Homo sapiens: one gene and its partner. The protein of the gene in region 2 interacts with the protein of the main gene of each other region in a biochemical or structural test. Each region holds a gene or a part of one and is shown on either strand. Other genes may lie near its edges.

The links. Proteins that work in one complex are often made in the same cells at the same time.
Region 1: of the proteins of MSTN (region 2) and BMP1, one has a biochemical effect on the other in vitro, tested with the Homo sapiens proteins (one study listed by IntAct).

Annotation. Positions count from the first base shown.
Region 1 is NC_000008.11:22,163,775-22,167,374, forward strand, and holds the start of BMP1 (bone morphogenetic protein 1 isoform 3 precursor), read left to right. Parts: upstream 1-1,597; 5' UTR 1,598-1,631; coding exon 1,632-1,779; intron 1,780-3,600. Other genes in the region: SFTPC (surfactant protein C isoform 1 precursor), read left to right, coding at 109-267. UniProt on the Homo sapiens protein: Metalloprotease that plays key roles in regulating the formation of the extracellular matrix (ECM) via processing of various precursor proteins into mature functional enzymes or structural proteins.
Region 2 is NC_000002.12:190,055,966-190,059,908, reverse strand, and holds part of MSTN (growth/differentiation factor 8 preproprotein), read left to right. Parts: intron 1-2,270; coding exon 2,271-2,651; 3' UTR 2,652-3,943. UniProt on the Homo sapiens protein: Acts specifically as a negative regulator of skeletal muscle growth.

The sequences.
Region 1 (3,600 bases), on a different chromosome or scaffold from region 2:
CCCCTCTTTACTGATGAGAAAACTGAGGCTCAGAGAGATTGCCTGATATACCTGAAGTCCCACAATAAGGGCTGCACATGGGATAGAAACTCACTTCCTACATTCCAGATGGAATGCTCTCTGCAGGCCAAGCCCGCAGTGCCTACGTCTAAGCTGGGCCAGGCAGAGGGGCGAGATGCAGGCTCAGCACCCTCCGGAGGGGACCCGGCCTTCCTGGGCATGGCCGTGAGCACCCTGTGTGGCGAGGTGCCGCTCTACTACATCTAGGACGCCTCCGGTGAGCAGGTGTGATCCCAGGGCCCCTGATCAGCAGCGGAGGAGCGCTCGGGCCACCTGCCCGGGCTGTGGAGGAGCGCTCGCGCTGACCAGGCGCTGGGGCGTCCACTGAAGCGGGGTCATCCAGGCAACTCGGGGGAGGGGAAGCTCACAGACCGGTACTTCCCACTCCCCTGATTCTCTCTGTCCATCCTCAACATTCCTTTGCTTCACAGGGTCAGTGGAAGCCCCAACGGGAAAGGAAACGCCCCGGGCAAAGGGTCTTTTGCAGCTTTTGCAGACGGGCAAGAAGCTGCTTCTGCCCACACCGCAGGGACAAGCCCTGGAGAAATGGGAGCTTGGGGAGAGGATGGGAGTGGGCAGAGGTGGCGCCCAGGGGCCCGGGAACTCCTGCCACAACAGAATAAAGCAGCCTGATTGAAAAGCAAAGGGTCTGCTTCTGTCTTCCTGCAGGGCGCAGTCCTGCCCTGGCGGGGGCCGGCCAAGAAGGGAAGGGCCTTGGGAGAGCAAAGTGGGGTTTGCCATTCGCCCTCTGTCCCAGGGCGCTGGGGCACTGGGTCCACCTCGGCGGGGGAGAGGGGCTCGCAGGGAGCCATCCACGGGCTTTCGGCGCCCTCCAGCGGCGTCTCCGGAGGAGGGAGAGACACCAAGACAGCGAGAGAGACAGAGCGCAGAGAGCGAGACGCGAGAGAGCGAGGGTCCAAGAAGGGGAGATAGGGAGACGCGGGCGGAGAGACCGACCCGAGGCGGGGGCGCGGGGCAGGGGCGGCGCGAGGACCTGACAGCGTGTCCCGCGGCGGGGCGGGGGCTCGGCCGCGCGCCCGCGGGGGAGGCCGCCGCTAGAGGGCACTTCAGGAGGGACAGCCCTCCCGGCACCCCGGGGCCCGAGCTCCAGCCCCGGCCTCGCGGCCCGCGGCCCGCGGCCCGGGCGGCCCGAGCCCCCTCCCCGGGCGCGCGGCTCTCCGCCTTCCCCGCCCCGGCTGGCGCGCGGCCCGGCCCGGCCGAGCACTGTCCCGGCCCCGAGGGGGGCAGAGCTCGGGCGAAAACCCGCCCTCCAGCGAGCTCATTTCCCTAAAAAGGGGGGGGGGAGTCGGAGGGAGGGAGGGAGGGAGAGAAAGAAAGAGAGAAAAAGAAGGAAAGGGAGAGGGAGACGGCTGGAGCCCGAGGACGAGCGCGGAGCCGCGGACCGAGCGGGGGGCGGGAGACAGGAAGGAGGGAGGCGAGCAGAGGGAAGGGGAAGAGGTCGGGGAGCGAGGGCGGGAGCGGTCGCGGTCGCGATCGAGCAAGCAAGCGGGCGAGAGGACGCCCTCCCCTGGCCTCCAGTGCGCCGCTTCCCTCGCCGCCGCCCCGCCAGCATGCCCGGCGTGGCCCGCCTGCCGCTGCTGCTCGGGCTGCTGCTGCTCCCGCGTCCCGGCCGGCCGCTGGACTTGGCCGACTACACCTATGACCTGGCGGAGGAGGACGACTCGGAGCCCCTCAACTACAAAGACCCCTGCAAGGCGGGTGAGCGCCCCCCGGCCCCCCGGCGACGGGCCAGGCGGGGAGGCGCGGGCGGGTTCGGGCTTGGGGTTGGGGGAGGACAGTCCAGTGTGGGAAGCCGGGAGCTGCCTGGTTGGCAATGCAGTGGGGAACAAAAGAACGAGGGGGAGAGGGAGGGGGATTTGGGGGACTTTTCGGACTGAAGTTTTGCCGCTGTTGGTGGAAGCTGCTGCCGCTGCCTCTCATCTTCCCAGAGGATTCCAGAGGAAGTCTCCTTGCGTCCCGGGAAAACCGGCGGGCAAGGCGGCTTTTCCTTCTGTAGGAAACTTTTCTGGCCAAACTCCTGTGCGTGCGTGTGTGTGTGTGTGTGTGTGTGTGTGTGTGTGTGTGTGTGTGTTCTTTCCCCTTCTCCCCCATCTCTCCTGCTCCAGGAGCTGGGTGTTTTCCAGCCTGTCTGGGCTGCCCTGGGGCTGCACATCTGTCTGGCTTGGATCTGGGAGGCCTGAGTCTCCAAGGAGCAGGTCCCCCAGCCACCACCCAGCCCAAGTGGAAGAAGAAAGTTTTTCCAGGGATTCCCTGAGATCGTGCTCTCTGGGTATCCCGTAGTTTAACCAGTAGCTGAAGCTTTCTGGGACTTAGGAGACAGCTGTCAAAGTCAGAGAAGCCAACCCAGAAGGGGGACTTAACTTTGTCCCTATGTGCCCAGAGACCCCCGCCAAGGCCAAGTTGGGGTGGAAAGAGGGAAAATACAAAGAGAACCCAGATATTGTATATCAGCTCTGTCACCCCCGAGACACCAGAGGCTAATTAGCTGAGGTCAGGACCCCGGAGTGTGTGTTTGCCTGTATGTGTGTGTGTTCTTTGTCTCTGAAGACTCTATGTAACCCCATCACTCCTGCTGAGCCCAGAAGGGTCCTGCCCCTGGAGTGACCAGATGGCCAGGCACTCGGGCCATTTGCCTGATTGGATGACCCTGGGCAGGCTGTTTGGGGACACACAGGGACAAGATATCAGAACTTTTCCTTGACTTCCTGCCTCTCTGACTTCAGCTCATCTCCAAATAGCCAGAGCCAGGGGAAGTGGCATAGTTGCTAGAACTGGACTGCCTGTGTGGGGCACCAGGGGCGGAGGGGCAGGTTGCTCTAGTCCTGGCTCTGGAGACCCTGTTCAGGGACTCTCCTGGGAGGGTGGCCCACAGGCAGGAATAAGAGACCATCCAATGGAGGAAATCAGGGCAAATCCCTCAGCCCTTACCCCTCTACACCTGCTGGGCTGCGGGTAAACCAGGACATTTGCTGTCATTTTTCTCGCTGGGGGCTGGGAGTGGGTACAGGGCAGAGTGGACTGCGCATGGACTTTGAAGGCAGGCACATCTAGCTTTCAATCCTGACCCTGCTACTCATTATAGCTGTACCACCTCAGAATGGTAATGATCATGTCTGAACTGCCACTTTCACACCTGTAAAATGGAACTGATCATGCATCTTCCCATAGAGTTGGTGGTAAGGGTTAAATATGAAAACATACATAAAACACTTAATAGTGCTTAACACACAGTCAGCGCTAAATAAATGTGGGCTCCCTACTCCCTGTTTTCTGTGCCTCAGACTGTCACTTCATTTTTTTGAGAGGTGTGGGATTGCTGGTGTCTCCTTGTGCCTCTTATCCATCAATCCATCAATACCTAATATGTGCTAGGGCCTGGAATGGATGTTGTGGGAGGTACTGAGACGTACAAGCTAGGACCCTGCCTTCAAGGAGCTTACAGTCCAGTAGGGACCCAAGACACCTACAGACATAACCAATAGCACAAACCAAGCCACACTGAGTGCCACATTGGAGGGT
Region 2 (3,943 bases):
GTGTCCAATTTCATATCCTATGAAACACTCCCTTGATACTCTTACTTTGCATCAAGATTTTAGAAAACAATTATACCATACTTCTTAACTTCTTAAGAAGTCCTTTTGAATTGGGAATGAAATATAAAGTGCTTTTCATTAATATGATACATGACTGTATGTATTAAAATATTAACTCTATATAGTGGATTTTACCACATAAACCAACAAATCCAAACATTATTTTTTTCTCCCAGAAGGGTGCCAAATGTGTTAAAGATTTTTGGCTTAGCATAAAACAGATAAACCTTTTAAAATTATAATTAAATGTTTTATTCAGAGAAATTAAGAGTGATATTTATAGGCTTATACTTTATTAAATATATTTAAGGTTTCTCAAGATAAATATGTTCATTATTTGTAGGATGTTGATGCACTGATGTGTGTATATATTTCTTTGTGGAATACTCCTAATAAAATTTCAAGTTACATACTAGTTAACCTTTGCCACCTAGCTTATTTCTGAGCTGCCTTAGCATTCTTGTGCAAAAATTTACTCAGGGAAGGCCGACTAATTTAGTACCAGGCCAAGTAAATGACAATACCTTATATATCACAAAAATTAATAAAAACCATTTTAATTCCTAGTACAAATTTAGGGTTACTCTTCTGGCTTACCTAAATTTCTGTTTTCAAATACTTAATGTGATCACATCTTTTTACGTTCATCTATTGATATAATTTACAAAAGAAGATTATACTTGTAAACAACAAACCTGTTACCTTTGTAATCATTCAATGATCTTAGTTATAAAGATGATATAATTAGCAGATCAGATCTACTCTAAATAAAACATTCTTTAAAATACTATACAATATTTTTTCATTTTTATTACTTTATTATATATATGTGTATATATATATTTATACACACACACACATGTTTTACTTCAATATGTTGGGGGGTACAAGTGGTTTCTGGCTACATAGATGAATTGTACAGTGGTGAAGTCTGAGGTTTTAGTGCACCCATCACTCCAAGTAGTGTATATTGTACCAAATATGTAGTTTTTAATCCCTCATCCCTTTCTGAGTCTCCGAAGTACCTTATACTACTCTGTATGTCTTTGCGTACGCATAGCTTAGCTCGCACTTGTAAGTAAGAACGTATGGTATTTGGTTTTCCATTCCCTTCGAATAATGGCCTCCAGCTCCATCTAATTTGCTGCAAAAGACATTCCTTTACTCTTTTTTATGGTTAAATAGTATTCCATGGTGTATATATACCACATTTTCTTTATCCATTCATCCGCTGATGGGCACTTAGGCTGGTTCCATATCTTTACAACTGTGAATTATGCTGCGATAAACATACGTGTGCAGGTGTCTAAAAGACTATACAATTTTCTAAATGATCTAGTTTCCTTTATATATGCTACTTTAAATGTTAATGACTCCCAAAATGATATTATTATTTTTGACAGTCTTAAATAACACTGCCAGAGCTATTTTCATTTAGATATGGGTTAAAAACTACTGTCAATTATTTAAGAAAGTGTTCCTTTTTATAGGTAGAATTTTAATGATCAAAATTGATAATATGTCCAGTGGTTAATATGTTGTGTTCCTCAGATTTTTTCATGTAAAGGGAAACAAAGTCTCAAATGCATTAAAAGATTGGGGCAGAGACAGAATCAACAAATTTTTAAATACCTGAATAGAAACATTTTCCAGTGAAAGAATAAAGGAAATATCATCGTCTCTTCTTCTGAATTTGTCCTTCCCTATTTTGCCCTGGTTTTATTGTCCAAGTTTTCCTGAGTGAGGAGGATGGATGACTATACCTAACCCTCCAGGAGTTACCAGGCATATTTAGCCAACATATTTAATCAGGAAGCAAGAAGAGAGGGAGCTGTTAGCTCTTTCCTTCATTCCCCACTTCTTCTTCTCCTCTCTCTCTCCTTTCTTCCTTCCCTCCCTTTCTTCCCATAAATATTTTCAGGACATCCATTATGTGCCAGGCAATCTGGTACTCAAACTTGGAAAAATAAAACTTAAAAAGACATGGTACTGACCTTAGGGGAATTTGTATTGCTGTTAAATTCTTTTGAGACATAAGGGGAAAATCAAGCCTAGTGTAAATTAACATTCCTTAATGCTGTGCCTTTTAAAAATAAATGTGGTATGAGCAAAATTATTAGTTTATTACTTCAACAATAACTTCTTAAGGTAGGTAGAAAAGTGTTTCCAGGCCTATTGATATTACTGATTGTTCTTTCCTTTTCAAACAGAATCCGTTTTTAGAGGTCAAGGTAACAGACACACCAAAAAGATCCAGAAGGGATTTTGGTCTTGACTGTGATGAGCACTCAACAGAATCACGATGCTGTCGTTACCCTCTAACTGTGGATTTTGAAGCTTTTGGATGGGATTGGATTATCGCTCCTAAAAGATATAAGGCCAATTACTGCTCTGGAGAGTGTGAATTTGTATTTTTACAAAAATATCCTCATACTCATCTGGTACACCAAGCAAACCCCAGAGGTTCAGCAGGCCCTTGCTGTACTCCCACAAAGATGTCTCCAATTAATATGCTATATTTTAATGGCAAAGAACAAATAATATATGGGAAAATTCCAGCGATGGTAGTAGACCGCTGTGGGTGCTCATGAGATTTATATTAAGCGTTCATAACTTCCTAAAACATGGAAGGTTTTCCCCTCAACAATTTTGAAGCTGTGAAATTAAGTACCACAGGCTATAGGCCTAGAGTATGCTACAGTCACTTAAGCATAAGCTACAGTATGTAAACTAAAAGGGGGAATATATGCAATGGTTGGCATTTAACCATCCAAACAAATCATACAAGAAAGTTTTATGATTTCCAGAGTTTTTGAGCTAGAAGGAGATCAAATTACATTTATGTTCCTATATATTACAACATCGGCGAGGAAATGAAAGCGATTCTCCTTGAGTTCTGATGAATTAAAGGAGTATGCTTTAAAGTCTATTTCTTTAAAGTTTTGTTTAATATTTACAGAAAAATCCACATACAGTATTGGTAAAATGCAGGATTGTTATATACCATCATTCGAATCATCCTTAAACACTTGAATTTATATTGTATGGTAGTATACTTGGTAAGATAAAATTCCACAAAAATAGGGATGGTGCAGCATATGCAATTTCCATTCCTATTATAATTGACACAGTACATTAACAATCCATGCCAACGGTGCTAATACGATAGGCTGAATGTCTGAGGCTACCAGGTTTATCACATAAAAAACATTCAGTAAAATAGTAAGTTTCTCTTTTCTTCAGGTGCATTTTCCTACACCTCCAAATGAGGAATGGATTTTCTTTAATGTAAGAAGAATCATTTTTCTAGAGGTTGGCTTTCAATTCTGTAGCATACTTGGAGAAACTGCATTATCTTAAAAGGCAGTCAAATGGTGTTTGTTTTTATCAAAATGTCAAAATAACATACTTGGAGAAGTATGTAATTTTGTCTTTGGAAAATTACAACACTGCCTTTGCAACACTGCAGTTTTTATGGTAAAATAATAGAAATGATCGACTCTATCAATATTGTATAAAAAGACTGAAACAATGCATTTATATAATATGTATACAATATTGTTTTGTAAATAAGTGTCTCCTTTTTTATTTACTTTGGTATATTTTTACACTAAGGACATTTCAAATTAAGTACTAAGGCACAAAGACATGTCATGCATCACAGAAAAGCAACTACTTATATTTCAGAGCAAATTAGCAGATTAAATAGTGGTCTTAAAACTCCATATGTTAATGATTAGATGGTTATATTACAATCATTTTATATTTTTTTACATGATTAACATTCACTTATGGATTCATGATGGCTGTATAAAGTGAATTTGAAATTTCAATGGTTTACTGTCATTGTGTTTAAATCTCAACGTTCCATTATTTTAATACT